2 separate regions of the Homo sapiens genome follow, and region 2 is linked to region 1. Evidence: fine-mapped expression QTL. Tissue or cell type: esophagus muscle. Region 1 holds a variant in brackets; the other region holds the start of a gene. All regions are shown on one strand. Distances are from middle to middle.

What was found. PIP is the estimated chance that this variant, and not a neighbour inherited with it, causes the effect.
Region 2: it holds the start of CEP250, and the variant in region 1 is fine-mapped to the expression of CEP250 in esophagus muscle (GTEx, PIP 0.98).

Annotation. Positions count from the first base shown.
Region 1 is chr20:35,524,425-35,532,528 of GRCh38, forward strand. C20orf173 (chromosome 20 open reading frame 173) reads right to left here and starts at 5,228. Exons shown (of 6, transcript NM_001145350.2): 1 at 5,135-5,228; 2 at 4,641-5,000; 3 at 4,277-4,455; 4 at 4,027-4,120; 5 at 3,809-3,860; 6 at 2,555-2,826. The coding sequence starts at 4,949. The coding sequence ends at 3,834. The variant TC/T (reference allele first, on the strand shown) is at 3,799.
Region 2 is chr20:35,450,845-35,458,948 of GRCh38, forward strand. CEP250 (centrosomal protein 250) reads left to right here and starts at 4,754. Exons shown (of 35, transcript NM_007186.6): 1 at 4,754-4,907; 2 at 7,460-7,530. MIR1289-1 (microRNA 1289-1) reads right to left here and starts at 3,253; the gene lies at 3,110-3,253. It also overlaps a transcript of GDF5 not described here. RefSeq lists enhancers at 3,689-3,738, 3,999-4,148 and a silencer at 4,169-4,548.

The sequences.
Region 1 (8,104 bases):
ACATACCCAAGTTACAATAAGCATAGTGAAAAGTTTTCTAAGAACTGAATTGTTTTGAAATTTAGATTAATTAAAATAAATTTAAAAATTCCTTCCTCACTTGCATTTGCCGCATTTCAAGTGCTCATCCATCATATTGGATGGTACAGAAATACAGGCTAATTTAATTCTAAAAGTCAACAATCTACTATTAGTGTTTACATTATTGTAACTAGATAAATATTTCCTATAGAGTTTGTAAATGAACTAAGACTACCTTTTTTTGTTCATGATAATTTTTTTTTTTTTTTTGAGACAGAATTTCGCTCTTGTTGCCCAGGCTGGAGTGCAATGGCATGATCTCGGCTCACTGCAACCTCTGCCTCCCGGGTTCAAGCAATTCTCCTGTCTCAGCCTCCTGAGTAGCTGGGATTACAGGCGTGCACCACCATGCCTGGCTAATTTTTGTATTTTTAGTAGAGACGGGGTTTCATCATATCAGTCAGGCTGGTCTCGAACTCCTGACCTCAGGTGATCCACCCACCTTGGCCTCCCAAAGTGCTGGGATTATAGGCATGATCCACTGTGCCCGGCCTTTTGTTCGTGGTAACTTTCTAAGAAAGGGTGTGTAGGAGATAAAACATTCTAAGTTTGCATGTCTAGAAACGCCATTATTCTGCTTGCAGGAGGTAGAATTGTGTTACTTTAAAAAAAAAAAATCTTTATGTTCTCACCCCTGATACTTATAAATGTGACCTTATTTGGAAGTAGGGCCTTTGCAGATACAATGAAATTAAAATGAGATCATGCTGGATGAGAATGGGCCCTAATCCAATGACTAGTGTGTTTATAAGATGAGGGAAATTGGCCGGGCGTGATGACCCATGCCTGTAATCCCAGCATTTTGGGAGGCCAAGGCAGGCAGGTCACTTGAGGCCAGGAGTTTGAGACCAGCCTGGCCAACATGGCGAAACCCAGTCTCTACTAAAATACAAAAAATTAGCCAGGCGTAGTGGCGGGCACCTGTAATCCCAGCTACTCGAGAGGCTGAGGCAGGAGAATTGCTTGAACCTGGGAGGCAGAGGTTGCAGTGAGCTGAGATCATGCCACTGCACTCCAGCCTGGGTGACAAGAGCAAGACTCCATCTCAAAAAAAAAGATGAGGGAAATTTGGAAACAGAAGACACAGGGGAGTATGCCATGTGAAGTTGGAGGTAGAGACTGGAGTGATGCCTCTGATGCAGGGCAGGCAATCCCCAAAATTGGGGCTTAGCCTGAGAGGGTTCTTGGCTTTGCCCTGATGCGATCCAGTGGTGTTAGCAAACTGTATTGAAGCAGCATTGCACAGCAGCAGCAGAGGTACACTGCTTCTTGTGGACAGGGCTACCCCATAGGCAGTGTGCCCAGAGTTAGCAGCTCAGCAGCAGCTCTGCAATCCTATTTATACCCACTTTTAACTACATGCAAATTAAGGGGTGAATTATGCAGAAATTTTCCAGGCACAAGCAGTCCTCCTGCCTCAGCCTCACAACATGCTGGGTCTGAGCCACTGTGCCCAGCCAAAAGTCTGATTTTTTATTCTTTGTTAACTGTAGCAGTTGGATTCTTGGTCTTGGTCAACAGACTGGTAAACTTCAGAGAAAAACAATTCGCCGGCTAAATATTTAGTAGTTTACAGGATGATGCAAAAGCTAGAGAACCAGGCTCAGTCTATCATGAGATGCAAAACATGGCCAAAGACTACCCCAGGAATGGCCCACCTGGAATGCCACCACTGCTGCCAACACAACTGGGCCCTTGACACTGTGGTAGTCTCATTATGGCAGATTCTCTTCAGCTCTTTCCATTAGGAAGAGCAGTTCATTTCCCCACTTCTTGGATCTTGGATCACTTTATGACTTGATCTGACCAATGGAATGCTGCAGAAGTGACACGGTAAGTGCTAGGCACAGTGACTCACACCTGTAATCCCAGCACTTTGGGAGGCCAAGGCAGTAGGATTGCTTGAGCCTAGGAGTTCAAGGCCATCCTGGCCAACATGGCAAGACCCCCTTTCTACAAAAACAAAAATTAAAATTAACTGGGTGTGGTGACATGCATTTATAGTCCCAGCTACTCAGGGGGCTTAGGTGGGAGGATCACTTGAGCCCAGGAGGTCGAGGCTGCAATAAGCCATGATTGTGCCACTCCATTCCAGCCTGGGCAACACAGCAAACTCTTGTCTCAAAAAAAAAAAAAAAAAAAAAAGCGAATTGGAACTGAGGCACCTAAAAAAACTGGGAACCTCAAAATGCTAAACCTTCTGTGAAAAGCTGGGCAAAAAAACAAAAAACAAAAAACAACCCTCACCCTCCGGCATGGGTGAAACAAGGAGGTTTACTTCTTTTATCGAAGTGGGTAAAGAGCCTCCCCCAACAACTCAAAGTCTGGGTTTGCACTTGGCATGAAATTGAATCTAAACTTATACCTCCTACATGATCCAGGGCACTAGGCAAAGAAATCAACTCAAATATTGCCCCTGAGATCTGGAAGGCACCTCTGGCCCATCCCTCCCAGACACTGTGGTTACAGGTAAGACAATCAGGCCAGGATTTTATTCAGTACCAGACTGATCTTACAATTTCCTCCTGCCCTTTACCCACCCAGAAATAGGATTTGTATGGACTCAGCTAGGCTGAGCTTGTGTGAATAGTGAGCTTGTCCACACGCTAGCTGATGGATGACTTCGATTTCTGCTCCTGCACTAGACGTGGGCAGTATTTCCTTGGAGCCCTTGGTCTGATTATCCTCCTTCCAGTGATAGAAACACTTTCCTTGCTATTCTGATCCAAATCCAAAGAGGGTGACCTAGTGGATAAGAGAGGGACATGTGCGTCAGCAGGCAGACTCCTGTCCTCACCCCTGCCTCCCTTCACTCAGCATCTAGGATGACAGGTTGTCCCTGGGAGCTGGGAGGAGACTGGAGCTCACCTCCAGGAAACAGACTCTGGACACTCTCCTAGAGTCACTGAGGATCCCAAAAAAGAGAATGTCAACTCACTTTTCCTCATGGTATTGGAGGAAGAGAGGGGAACCCCCAGGACGTAAGAGAAGGGCATTCCAGGCAAACGGAATGGTGCGAGAGAAGGCATGAGGCAGCTCATGTGTCTGGGGAATTCTAAGAGCCCATTATGGGAGCCTGGGAGACAGGAGGCAAGGGGAGGAGTCAGAACATGTATAGTCTTTTTTTTTTCTGAGATGGAGTCTCGCTCTGTCACCAGGCTGGAGTGCAGTGGCGCAATCTCGGCTAACTGCAACCTCTGCCTCCCGGGTTCAAGCGATTCTTCTACCTCAGCCTCCCGAGTAGCTGGGACTACAGGCATGCCTGGCTATTTTTTGCATTTTTAGTAGAGATGAGGCTACCACCATGCCTGGCTATTTTTTGTATTTTTAGTAGAGATGGAGTTTGACCATATTGGCCAGGCTGGTCTCGAACTCCTGACCTCATGATCCACCCGCCTCAGCCTCCCAAAGTGTTGGGATACAGGCATGAGCCACCACGCTTGGCCTACATGTAGAGTCTTGAAAGCCAGGCAGAAAACTTTAGACTCCATGCTGAAGGCATTGAGGAGCAGGAATTTTAAGAGAAGAAGATACAAGAATCTTTCCTGCCGGGGCACAGTTGTGCAAGACACAGAACAAAGCCTTGGGCCCCAGGGATGACCCTGACCCTGGTAAGACAGCCAGTTGTCCTGGTTGCACCTGGGGAGGAAGGGGGAGGGAACTGACCTGGGGCCCTTCCCACAGCAACCCACAGCCACATCCTACCCCTTTTCCTAT[TC/T]CCCCTCACCGTGTCTTTGCTATCTTCCACTCCACTAGGGAACCAGACCATCTTCCAAAATCTGAGAAAGAATTGGAGGTGGGGGAGTTTGGGCCACAAGACCTGGGAAAGTCCTGCAAGTGTCCCCAGTAAGCCAATAGAAGGTCTTCCCAGAGCCCCTGCTGTTACTCCCTGCAGTGACCTCCCCTCACCCCCACACAGAGAATGTCTGGGGACACCTCCATCACCTTATCACTTAGAGCATCTGAAGTCCACACCAGGTCAGAGAGCTTCCGCAGTAGCATCTCCAGCTGCATCCAGGAGCCCTGGTCGCTGGCATTCCTGGGATAGATGAAGCATTGTGTGTGGTTTGGTTCCCCACGTCCATCTCAAAGCCCTGGACTTGGGGCCTGCTTCATCTTGGGAAGGGGAGCAGAAACTGATGGAACTGTGGGGCAGGCCTGGCCTTCCTGCTCCCGCCCTCTCCCCAGCACCCACCTGAAAACCACGGGGTATTGGTCGATGTCGTTGCCAAGGCTGGAGCCCTGCGGGATCTGTGGGCGCCCCAACAGCACACAAGTCCCACAATAGAAATCAAAATGGCTCACCGAGAGCCTGGGAATCCCTTTAAACAGCTTCCTCCACAATTTCCCAAGCTCGCTCCCTGAGTTCATGCCCTGGAAACAGCAAGAGGGAGATTGGGGGCTGGGCCCAGGGGAGAGAAAACAGAGCTGGGTGGGTGAGATCTCCATCCAGAGGCTGTGAAGACAGGGCCAAGGGCAGGGATTTGGGCGGAAAGTGGGAGATGGGTGAGGCCCGGAAAGCATGGGGGATATGGCCGGGCCCAGTGTTGACCACTGACCAACCACCAGAGCACAGTGTCAGAGGTCATAGACTCTCTTGTCCTCATCAGGTACCCCATAGTCTTCCTGGAGCACGCATCAAGCCAGTTCCATTCGTCGGCTGTGTGGTGGCAGGAGGAGCAGTTGAGGGTCTCAGAAGGGCAGCCACACTTCCCGGAACTGAACCAAGGGCAGTCGCAATGCTGTGGTACCAAGTACATTCGTTTTTCCTGGGGTGCTGATTCAGGTGTCAGATCCAGATAGGGGGTCATCAGCCAGAGGATGAGCACCCAAAAGACCCACAGGACAAAAATCTGCCAGCGCTTCATGTCTGGCCCAGGCGGTGGCTCCCGTGGTGGGCCGTAGACTGGCTTCTCTACCTGTAAGGATGAGGGGCTGAGGCCACAGACAGCACCAGCTTCCCTCTGTCCTGTCGGCCTCCACAACTCCCCATCCCACCACCTTCCACCTCCTTCCAACCCCTCCTCTCCTGCCTCACTATCCATTTGCTCACCCTCAAAACGGTCTCTGACTGGGCATGGGGTGGAAGAGGCCAGGGCAGAGAGACAGCATGTGGCTAGTCCTGAGAGGGGAAGGAATACCTCAGTGGGGGCCTTGCTGTCATCCCAGTTATATCATAGATCTCATCACAAAGTACACATTGTGACCTCCCTCCTTTAGCCTGCCTGAAAAAAGCCACCACCCTACCCTTTCTCTGACACCGAAATGACCTCCACTGGATGTAAGATTCATGAGGACAGGGGCTGACCTAGTCTCTCTTCTTCACCTCTGCAGCTCTAAGACTTAGAATCATTTAATAAATATTTATGGGATAAATAAACAGGGGTTGAGAGGGAACTTTTTTTTTTTTTTTTGAGATGGAGTTTTTGCTCTGTTGTCCAGGCTGGAGTGCAGTGGCATGATCTTGGCTCACTGCAACTTCCGCCTGCCTGGTTCAAGCGATTCTCATGCCTCAGCCTCCCAAGTAGCTGGGACTACAGGCATGCGCCACCACGCCTGGCTAATTTTTATATTTTTAGTGGAGACAGGGTTTCGCCATATTGGCCAGGCTGGTCTCAAACTCCTGACCTCAAGTGATCCGCCCACCTCAGCCTCCCAAAGTGCTGGAATTACAGGCGTGAACCACCATGCCCAGCCGGGAACTTTATTTTTAAATTATTATTATTATTATTATTATTATTATTATTATTATTATTATTTTGAGACGGAGTTTCACTCTTGTCGCCCCAGCTGGAGTGCAGAGGCACGATCTCGGCTCACTGCACCCTCTACCTCCCGGGTTTAAGTGATTCTCTTGCCTCGGTTTCCCAAGTAGCTGGGATTACAGGTGCCCGCCACCACGCCTGGCTAATTTTTTTGTATTTTTAGTAGAGACGGGGTTTCCCCATGTTGGTCAGACTGATCTCGAACTTCTGACCTCAGGTGATCCGCCCGCCTTGGCCTCCCAAAGTGTTGGGATTACAGGCATGAGCCACTGCACCCCGCCCCAGCCTGGAACTTTAAATATACTTGTGTGTGATGCCCTCTCTGGAGTTGTGTGACATCAACTCAATCCTCTCTTGTAGTCTCTAGACCCCATATCCAACAGCCTACTGAATTGCCACTTAGATGGCTCAGAGACATCTCACCTGAATAAGCCTGAGACTGAACCCAGGATTTTCCCTGTAAACCAACCCTTCCCAAAACTTCTCTGTCTCTTTTGTTTTGTTTGAGACAGAGTCTTGCTCTGTCACCCAGGCTGGAGTGCAGTGGCGCAATCTCAGCTCACTGCAACTTCTGCCTCCTCCGGGGTTCAAGCAATTCTCCTGCCTCTGCCTCCCGAATAGCTGGGATTACAGGTGCGTGCCACCAAGCCCGGCTAATTTTTTGTATTTTTGGTACAAACGGGATTCCACCATGTTGGCCAGGCTGATCTCAAACTCCTGACCTCAGGTAATCTGCCCACCTCGGCCTCCCAAAGTACTGGGATTACAGGCGTGAGCCACTGCACCCAGCTTCAAAACTTCTCTATCTCAACAAATGGTTCCACCACGTACCCAGTTATTGAAACCAGAACTCATGTGTTATTAATTCCTCCTACTCCTATGATACCCAAATTCTTTTTTTTTTTTTTTTTTTAGGACAAAGTCTCACTCTGTCACCCAGGCAGGAGTGCAGTGGCACAATCTTAGCCCACTGTAGCCTCTGCCTCCAAGGTTCAAGCAATCCTTTCACCTCAGCTTGCCAAGATGCTGGGACTACAGAAGTGTGCCACCACGCTAGGCTTATTTATTTATTTAATTTATTTTTGAAACAGAGTCTCACTCTGTCGCCCAGGCTGGAGTGCAGTGGCACAATCTTGGCTCACTGCAACCTCTACCTCCCAGGTTCAAGTGATTCTCATGCCTTAGCCTCCCAGGTAGCTGGGACTACAGGCGCACAACACCACACCTGGCTCATTTTTGTATTTTTTTGGTAGAAACGGGGTTTCACTGTGTTGGCTAGGCTGGTCTCCATCTCCTGGTCTCAAGCAATCCGCCCACCTCGGCCTCCCAAAGTGCTGGAATTACAGGCGTGAGCCACCGAGCCTTGCTGATTTTTTTTTTTAAGTAGAGATGGGGTTTACTGTGCCAGCCCTGTCTCGAACTCAGCTCAAGTGATCCACCCTCCTCGGCCTTTCAAAGTGCTGAGATTACAGGCATAAGCCACTGAGTCTGGCCTCAAATCCATTTTTTAATTCGTTTCTATTTCTAAGTCATCTTCTTCATCTCCACTGCCACCCCCTTAATTCAATTGTAGTCTTGTAAAGATAGTAAAAAAATGAAAATGTTTGAGTTGTTTTTAAAGTTTAAGAAAAAAACAGAACATTTTGGTTTTTAAAAAAAATCAAAACATTTTATTCAATGGGATAAGAACAGTAAAATTCTTCATCTTAACTAGTGGAAAGCTGCACTGGATATTGTATAGCTTTTAAATCAATTCACCCAAATATCTGAGTAAGGTGTGTAGGCTAGTTAATTATATCATACCAACGTCAAGTTCCAGGTTTTGAAAAAGTACCATATGGGCTGGGCGCGGTGGCCCACGCCTGTAATCCCAGCATTTTGGGAGGCAAGGTGGGCAGATCACCTGAGGTCAGGAGTTCGAGACCAGCCTGACCAACATGGAGAAACCCTGTCTCTATTAAAAATACAAAATTAGCCAAGCATGGTGGCGCATGCCTGTAATTCCAGCTACTCGGGAGGCTGAGGCAGGAAAATTGCTTGAACCCGGGAGGCGGAGGTTGCGGTGAGCCGAGATCGCACCACTGAATGTGATTTTAGCTGGGCAAAAAGAGTGAAACTCTGTCTCAAAAAAAGAAAAAGAAAAATTACTATATGTATTATATGGTAAGACACTACCATTAAGAGAAAATGAAGGCCAGGCACAGTGGCTCGTGCCTGTAATCCCAGCACTTTGGGAGGCCAAGGTGGGGTTTGAAGCT
Region 2 (8,104 bases), 74 kb before region 1:
TCAGATTCTCATGGAAGCCCCCTCTCCTAGTCACTTGGTTTGAGCGGTTAAAAGTAATGTCCTCTTAATCTTCCCCAAGGAGGAATGGGGACTCATAGCCAGAAATATCTCCACACAAATTATCTATCCTCCACCTGCAGACCCCTTTATATTGGGATAAGGGATTTAGGAACTTTCAAACAGATTTTAGACTAACAGAAAAAAAAAAAAAAAAAAAAAAATATATATATATATATATATATATATATACACAAATATATATGTAGTGATTTAGCACCTCATTTTGAAATTTCACATACATATATATATATATTTTTTAATTCAGTTAGTCCAGACGGCCTCTTGGCATGGGCTAGGAGGAATATGTATAAATAATGAGCAAGGCTGGGTGTAGGAAAGATCCATATTATAGCCCTCAGAGAGGGTTTGAGTACAAGGCATATTTCTAGAGATGGAATTTAGGATATAAAGGAAGAAACCGTTCCCCTCACCTGGCAGGGACCAGGGTTGATTTTCTTTCAACTCATCCATTGCCTTTCCCTCCAATCCAGCCTCCTTTGAGAACTCCCCAGTCTGGTTCATCAGACAGGTCTGAACATGATCAGACTTGAATTGTCTGGTTTAAGTCTTTATAGGACTCTTGGGCCCCAAGCCAGGTGATAGGTAGGAACACCTGTTTGTACGTCTCAAATGCTCCATGCAGTTTGCAGAATGCGTTTTTTTTCTGTTTTTTTTTCCTTTTTTTTTTTTTTTCGAGACAGGGTCTTACTCCTGTCACCCAGGCTAGAGTGCAGTAGGGCCATCACGGCTCATTGCAGCCTCGACCTCCTGGGCTCAAGCAATCCTCTCACCTCATTTTTTTATTTTTTTGTAGAGACAAGGTCTAACTATGTTGCCCAGGCTGGTCTCCAACTCCTGGGCCCAAGTGATCCACCTGTCTTGGCCTTCTAAAGTGCTGGGGTTACAGGCGTGAGCCACTGCACCCAGCCATCTGCAGGTTGTGTAAGACTGATGTGGTGTACTCTTATGCCTACAGAACCACTAGGGCAGGGGTTTCTAATCCCCCAGGCCATGGACTACTATCAGTCTGTGACCTGTTAGGACCCTGGCAGCACAGTAGGAGTTGAGCAGATAAGCGAGCATTACCACCTGAGCTCCACCTCCTGTCAGTTCAGCAGCAGCATTAGATTCTCATAGGAGGCAAATCTTATTGAGACCTGTGCATGCAAGGGATCTAGGTTACACACTCATGAGAATCTAATGCCTGATGATCTGAGGTGGAAGTCTCATCTCAAAACCATTCCCACCCACCCCTGCCCATCCCTGTTTCACACACCAGCTAATTCCACTTTGGGCTTTGGCTCAGATAATATCCAGTTGTACTACATTATTATGTTTTAATACAATTTCCAACTTGTCCTTACTACATTGTATTATTATTCAATACTAGAACATAATCAATGCTCAATAAATGTCCACTGGGTAAATGAATAAATAAGGGAATGAATCCCCCTTTACAAACATCAAAGATTACTATTTGGTTTGGTATATCTTGGTAGTCTGAAACCTGTTTACTCCTCATAGTCTTTTTCTTTGAGATGAACTTTCGCTCTTGTTGCCCAGGCTAGAGCACAATGGTGCAATCTCGGCTCACCGCAACCTCCGCCTCCCGGGTTCAAGTGATTCTCCTGCCTCAGCCTCCCGAGTAGCTGGGATTACAGGCATGCGCCACCACGCCTAGCTAATTTTATATTTTTAGTAGAGATGGGGTTTCTCCCTGTTGGTCAGGATGGTATTGAACTCCCAACCTCAGGTGATCTGCCCACCTCAGCCTCCCAAAGTGCTGGGATTACAGGCGTGAGCCACCGCACCCGGCCGACTCCTCATAGTCTTAAAAAATATTGTCTAGTTTGCTAATGGATGTTATGTCATTAAACTTTGTAACACTAGGGCTGACTTGATTCATTCATTCAATGGACACTTACTTGATACCTACCATGTGTGTAAGACTGTGCTAAATCCCAGGAATAAGTCTCCTATCCACACAAAGCTTAAATTTTGGAGGGAATGTTAATAGGAAAACAAAATAATAAATGGAAAGTGCTATGAAAGAAACAGAAGACGGCCGGGTGCGGTGGCGCATGCCTGTAATGCCAGCATTTTGGGAGGCTGAGGCGGGCGGATCACGAGGTCAGGAGATCAAGACCATCCTGGCTAACACGGTGAAACCCCGTCTCTACTAAAAATACAAAAAAATTAGCCGGGCGTGGTGGCGGGCACCTGTGGTTCCAGCTATTGGGGAGGCTGAGGCAGAAGAATGGCGTGAACCCGGATGGTGGAGCTTGCAGTGAGCCGAGATTGCGCCGCTGCACTCCAGCCTGGGCGACAAAGCAAGACCCCGTCTCAAAAAGAAAAGAAACAGAAGACTATCCTAGAAAGTATAGGGTATTACTTTAGATAGCATGGTCAGGGAAGACCTAGTTGAGGAAGTATCATTTAAGCTGGGACCTGAAGGACAGGAAGGTACCAGCTAGGCCAAGAGCTGGGGGAAAAGTGGTCTAGGTAGCTGGCATAGTGTATGCAAACGCCCTGAGGCAGAAAAGAGCTTGATGTGCATAATATTTAGATTGTTTCATTTGTATTTCAAATATTGTTGCAGTGAACATTCAAGCACAATGCCTGTTGTGGGATTATTTCCCTAGGATGGAATCCCACACCACTGCTTCTTTGCATCGTTTTCTCTGTCTAGTGCCTGGAGATGTTCCTTTTCCCCTCTCTAGATAGTTTGCCTTTCAGAATCCGTGTCCTTCCTTCCCCTTTTACTCTCCACTTTCTCTATTTCTCAAATTAGCTATTAAGATCTTTTTTGTGTTCTTACAGGAGAAAGATAAAATATAGCTTTTAAGCGTTCCTTTCTCAGGTTACCTTTGGCTGTGGATTAACCTGAAGCCTTGCTGTTTCACTCGAGCTATCCACTCATTCACCCATTCACTCAGCACTTATTGAGCACCTATTTTGTACCAGGCCTTGTGCTGAGCGCTATAGTCAGATGACCAAATTACAGTCTCTACGCTCAAGCTCACAATCTCATGCAGCGCTTCCTAAAACGTGTTCCCAATTATCAGAATCACCCTGGGTACTTTCTAAAATGCAGATTCCTGGACTCCACCCCCGGTTTAGGGATTCTCTGGGGGTGGAAACCAAGAGTCTGCATTTACCAGTTTTGTTTTTAATTCCTACTAAAAATTGAGAACCACTGAGTGCAAGAGTGAGGCAGGTAAATGGAGTTTACAACTCTAAGAAAGTGCATTAACAATTTATACACAAGGCCGGGCGCGGTGGCTCACGCCTGTAATCCCAGCCCTTTGGGAGGCCGAGGCGGGAGGATCACGAGGTCAAGAGAGATCGAGACCATCCTGGCCAACATGGTGAAATCCTGTCTCTACTAAAAATACAAAAATTAGCCGGGCGTGGTGGCGGGCGCCTGTAGTCCCAGCTACTCGGGAGGCTGAGGCAGGAGAATTACTTGAACCTGGGAGGCAGAGGTTGCAGTGAGCCGAGATCGTGCCAATGCACTCCAGCCTGGCGACAGAGCAAGACTCCATTTCAAAAAAAAAAAAAAAAATTTATACACAAAATGCTACAGGAATAACGCATGGGTCCTATTGGGAAGAAAAAGTTCTCTAGAAGTCAGGCTTAAGCAGAACTGCAGCTCCGGGACGGATTAAGTCAGGTAAAGGTAACACTCTGTGCAGAGACATGCAGACAAAACCGAGTGTTGAGTAAGTAACTCGCCTGTAAGTGTTATGCTGCCTGAAGCTTCTCGGAGCGTCTGAGCAGCAAGGTGAACAACCCTCAGAAACCGGTCGCGCTGCCAGTATTATCGCTAACCAGTGGCAGCGAGCCCCTTTGTTTCTCGGCAGTTGTAATTGTAGTCTGGTTTGTAGGTGGAGCTGTGCGCAGGCGCACCTAGAACCAGGTGACCTTGCACATGCGCTGTATGTAACACTGAAGCCAAAAGCGAAATGATTGAGGGCAATTTTTCTTTTCTGCTTCCGAAATGTCCCTTTCGCGAATCCAGAGACCCTGACCGTCCCCATTTCTGGCTAGGGATCTTATAATTCTTAAAATAATACCCCCTTTCCTTCAGGGCCTCTCTAGTAAGTCGGCTGCCAATACCCAACATGGCGGGAGGCCCTGCGCCGGCTCAGTCTGCCTATAGGTGCAGGACTTGGAGGGGCGGGCCCCTCCCAAAGGGCGGGAGTTTGGGGGGGCGGGGCCTGGCCCTCTGCCTCGGGGTGGGCTCCGCCCCCGTCCCCCGCAGGGCCTTAGCAGCGGCTGCCGCAGCTCAATCGCGGAGCAACTAGCCGGGCGTCTGCGGGAGCCGAGCGTGGTGAGGTGGGGCCTCAGGGGCAGGTGGGAGGTGCTCGGGTTAACCGTCCGAGGCCCGGAGACCCGCCCGTCTAGGGCGCCTGAGGGAATCCCGTTCGGGCAGCGGCCTCTTGTTACCCGGGAGGAACCCGAGGCCCAGAGAGGGGCTGGGACGCGTCGTTAGGGCCCGGGGCCCGCTTGCCTCAGCTTCTTGCTGCCGCCAGCACGCTAAGCTCCAGTCGGCGCCGAAGGAGAGCTTCCCGACCCTCGTGTCCAGTAGCCGCAATCCCAGGCTGGGAGGGTGAGGCGCCGCGCTCTGCCGCCCCCCCGCCCCTCGCTCCCTGTGTCCTGGCGGATTTGCACGTAATCTATCCGAAAGCCCAGTCCCACCCGCCACCCGACTCTGGAGCTCCCATTCTTCAGGACCCTGCTGAAGTATCGCTTCTCAGCCGCCTTCTCCAGGCGCAGCTGCATTCGCTTCTCGGTTTTTGCACTCGCTGTGCACCGAGTTACTTTCCCGGCCCCTCGTTGACACCGTAAGCTCGTTCGTTAGATGTTATGCCTTGCCTTTTTCATCTCTAGATCCCAGGGCCTAGCACGTGATGATAATAGTCATGGCTTACTGTACGGAATGATCACAAATTGTCAGGTGCTACTGAATGCATTACACATAAGGGCCCATTTATTTATTTATTTAGAGACGGAGTTTCGCGCTTGTTGCCCAGGCTGGAGTGCAATGGCGCGATCTCGGCTCACCTCAACCTCCGCCTCCCGGGTTCAAGCGATTCTCCTGCCTCAGCCTCCCAAGTAGCTGGGATTGCAGGCATGCGCCACCACACCCGGCTAATTTTATGTTTTTAGTAGAGACGGGGTTTCTCCATGTTGGTCAGGCTGATCTCGAACTCCCGACCTCAGGTGATCCGCCCGCTTCGGCCTCCCAAAGTGCTGGGATTACAGGCGTGAGCCACCGCGCTCAGCCAAAGGCCTATTTAATCTTCCCAACAATCCTATGGGGTGAGTTCTTTCTATAGCTTCACGTTTTACCCATGAAGAAACTGAGGTATTCATAGAAAAAGTAATTTGCCAGGAGTCCCACAACTAATAAGTGGATGGAGCTGGGAAACTGTCCCCAGGGCATTTGATGACTTGACTAGATTGCCTTTGGGTTTAATCAACGTCTGTTGAATTGATCTTTACTTTGGCCCTGGGAGTTATTGGAGGCTAGGCTTGTGATCAGTATTTTACCGCGAAGGCTTAGAAAGGAGAACTGGTCCCAGATTTATAGAGGTCACAACAAAACCAAGGCTACTGGTACGCCCTCTGTTCCTTTAGTTCTTCTATCTTTCTTTGCTCCTTTTCGATCAGAAAGCTGCAGACATAGGTGTCATTATCGCTCACTATTTAAGAAGTGCCCCTCACAGAGCTGTGAGTTCGTAGTCCATGCTTTAACTAATGTAATGTTCATGCTTTAACAGCTAATGTAATGGAGAGAGTGTAGAATTTGGAATCAGATTGGGGTTCAGTCATTGCTCTGCCACTGACCAAGCTATAAGTTATATGCCTCCCCCCACTTTTTTTTTTTTTTTTGAGACCTGGTCTCAGTCACCCAGGCTGGAGTGCAGTGGTGCGATCTGGGTTCACTGGAACATCCTGTCTCCCAGGTTCAGGCGATTCTCCCGCCTCAGCCTCCTGAGTAGCTGGGATTACAGGCGCCCGCCACCGTGCCTGGCTAATTTTTGTATTTCTAGGAGAGATGGGGTTTTGCCATGTTGGCCAAGCTGGTCTCGAACTCCTGGCCTCAAATGATCTGCCCAACTCAGCCTCCCAAAGTGCTGGGATTACAGTTGTGAGCCACCACACCCAGCCTGTTTTTTTGCTTTTTATATAGGTAATAGAGCTGTTAGCATTTTGCAAGACCATTGGTGATAATATGGATCATGTTACCTAATGTCCTATAATAGTCAGTAATAATGGGCACTTGTTATAAACCAGGCTGTGTTTTAGGTAGGAGCTGGGAATACAGCATTCGATAAAACAATGCTTTTGCACTTGTGGAATTTGCATTTTGGTAAGTATATTACATAATAATTAGATAGGGACAGAAAAAGCATGGTAAGGTAAATAAAAGTACTAGTGTTATGTGGAGAGGTGATAGTATTTTATTTATTTATTTATTTGAGCATCTTGTCCCAGGCTGGAGTGCAGTGGCGTGATCACAGCTCACTGCAGCCTCGAACTCCTTGGCTCAAGCAGCCCTCCCACCTTAACTTCCCAAGTAGCTGGGACTACAGGTGAATGCCACACAGCCAGCAATTTTTTTTTTTTTAATAGAGATGGGAATCTCCCTGTGTTGCCCAGGCTGGTCTTGAACTCCTGGCCTCAAGAGATCCTCCCACCTTGGTGAAACTCTGTCTCTACTAAAAATACAAAAAAATTAGCTGGTCGTGGTGGCACATGCTTGTAATCCCAGCTACTCAGGAGGCTGAGACATGAGAATTGCCTGAACCGGGGAGGCAGAGGTTGCAGTGAGCTGAGATCATGCCAGTGCACTACAGCCTGGGTAACAGAGCCAGATCCTGTCTCAAAAACAAAACAAAACACTGGATGAGATTACCTTGGAAATTAATGGAGATGGAGAAGAGGTCTGAAGCCTTGAGGTTTCCAAACTTTAGATACTGGGGAGATGAGAAAAGGCAGCAAAGGAGACTGAGTGGGAGAGGCCAGAGGTTGGAAGAGAGCAACAGAGAGGCCCCACATGAGATTTAAATAAGGAGCTGCATGCTAATTTGTTTTTTTCAGGAGTAAGAAACAAATTATGTCTGTACACAAATGTCTATACTGTAGTTTCTTTCTCAGTAAATAAAATGTTTGTGTCCTCAAGTATTTTTCTGTTTTTGCTTTAAGTGACAAATTCTATTTAATACCATTCTGCATCTTAGTCCTTGTAGCATTTATGCCTCTATTCCAAGTTTAGGTGGTAGTGTTGCTTCTCTTTTAAACTTTATTTAAATACTCCTTTTGTAGTATTTTGGATGAGAGAGGATCAAATACATAATTTATCTCACTCTTCTGTCACTTTCCACTCCAGGTTCACAGGTGGCTGTTGGTCTTTAGTAAGGGTGCTGTCTTCCCTGTCTGATCCTTAGCAAAAGTAGGAAGGTAGGTCTTGTTCATTTCTGTACCACTGTGGCAGACTCCTGATACTGAGTTGAAATTCATGAGTGTTTATGGGATAAATTAATGTACAAAAGAAATGAATCTTTCCCTTTTTCCTGCAGTAATGATAACATTGGCTCAGTGGTTTACAGCTTAGAAGTACACTGACACTCATTATCTTATTTAGATGTAATCCAATTTGTTAGTTTGCCAGCTACTGCTCTTTTCCCTTTCTCAGGCACATTGAAATTTACTTTCCCTTTGGGGGCTCTGCTAGTTTATTCCTAGCAGATCTGATCTGGCAGTGTGTTTGTAAAAGGATGCTGAACTGTGTCTTGAGGAAGCTCAGAATGAAATCTGAATTTCAGAAAGATTCCTGAGATAATTTTTCTCTGTCTCTTCTCTTTTATTCTTGTTTTAATAAATTTTAGTTTTATGAGGATTGTTTTGGTTTTAAAAAACTTTAAATCATTTTTTAAAACTATTTTTTACAACAATTTTAGGGTTACAGAAAAATTGCATAGTACAGAGAGTTCCTGTATACCTTGCACCCAGTCTCCCCTTTTAGTATGGTATA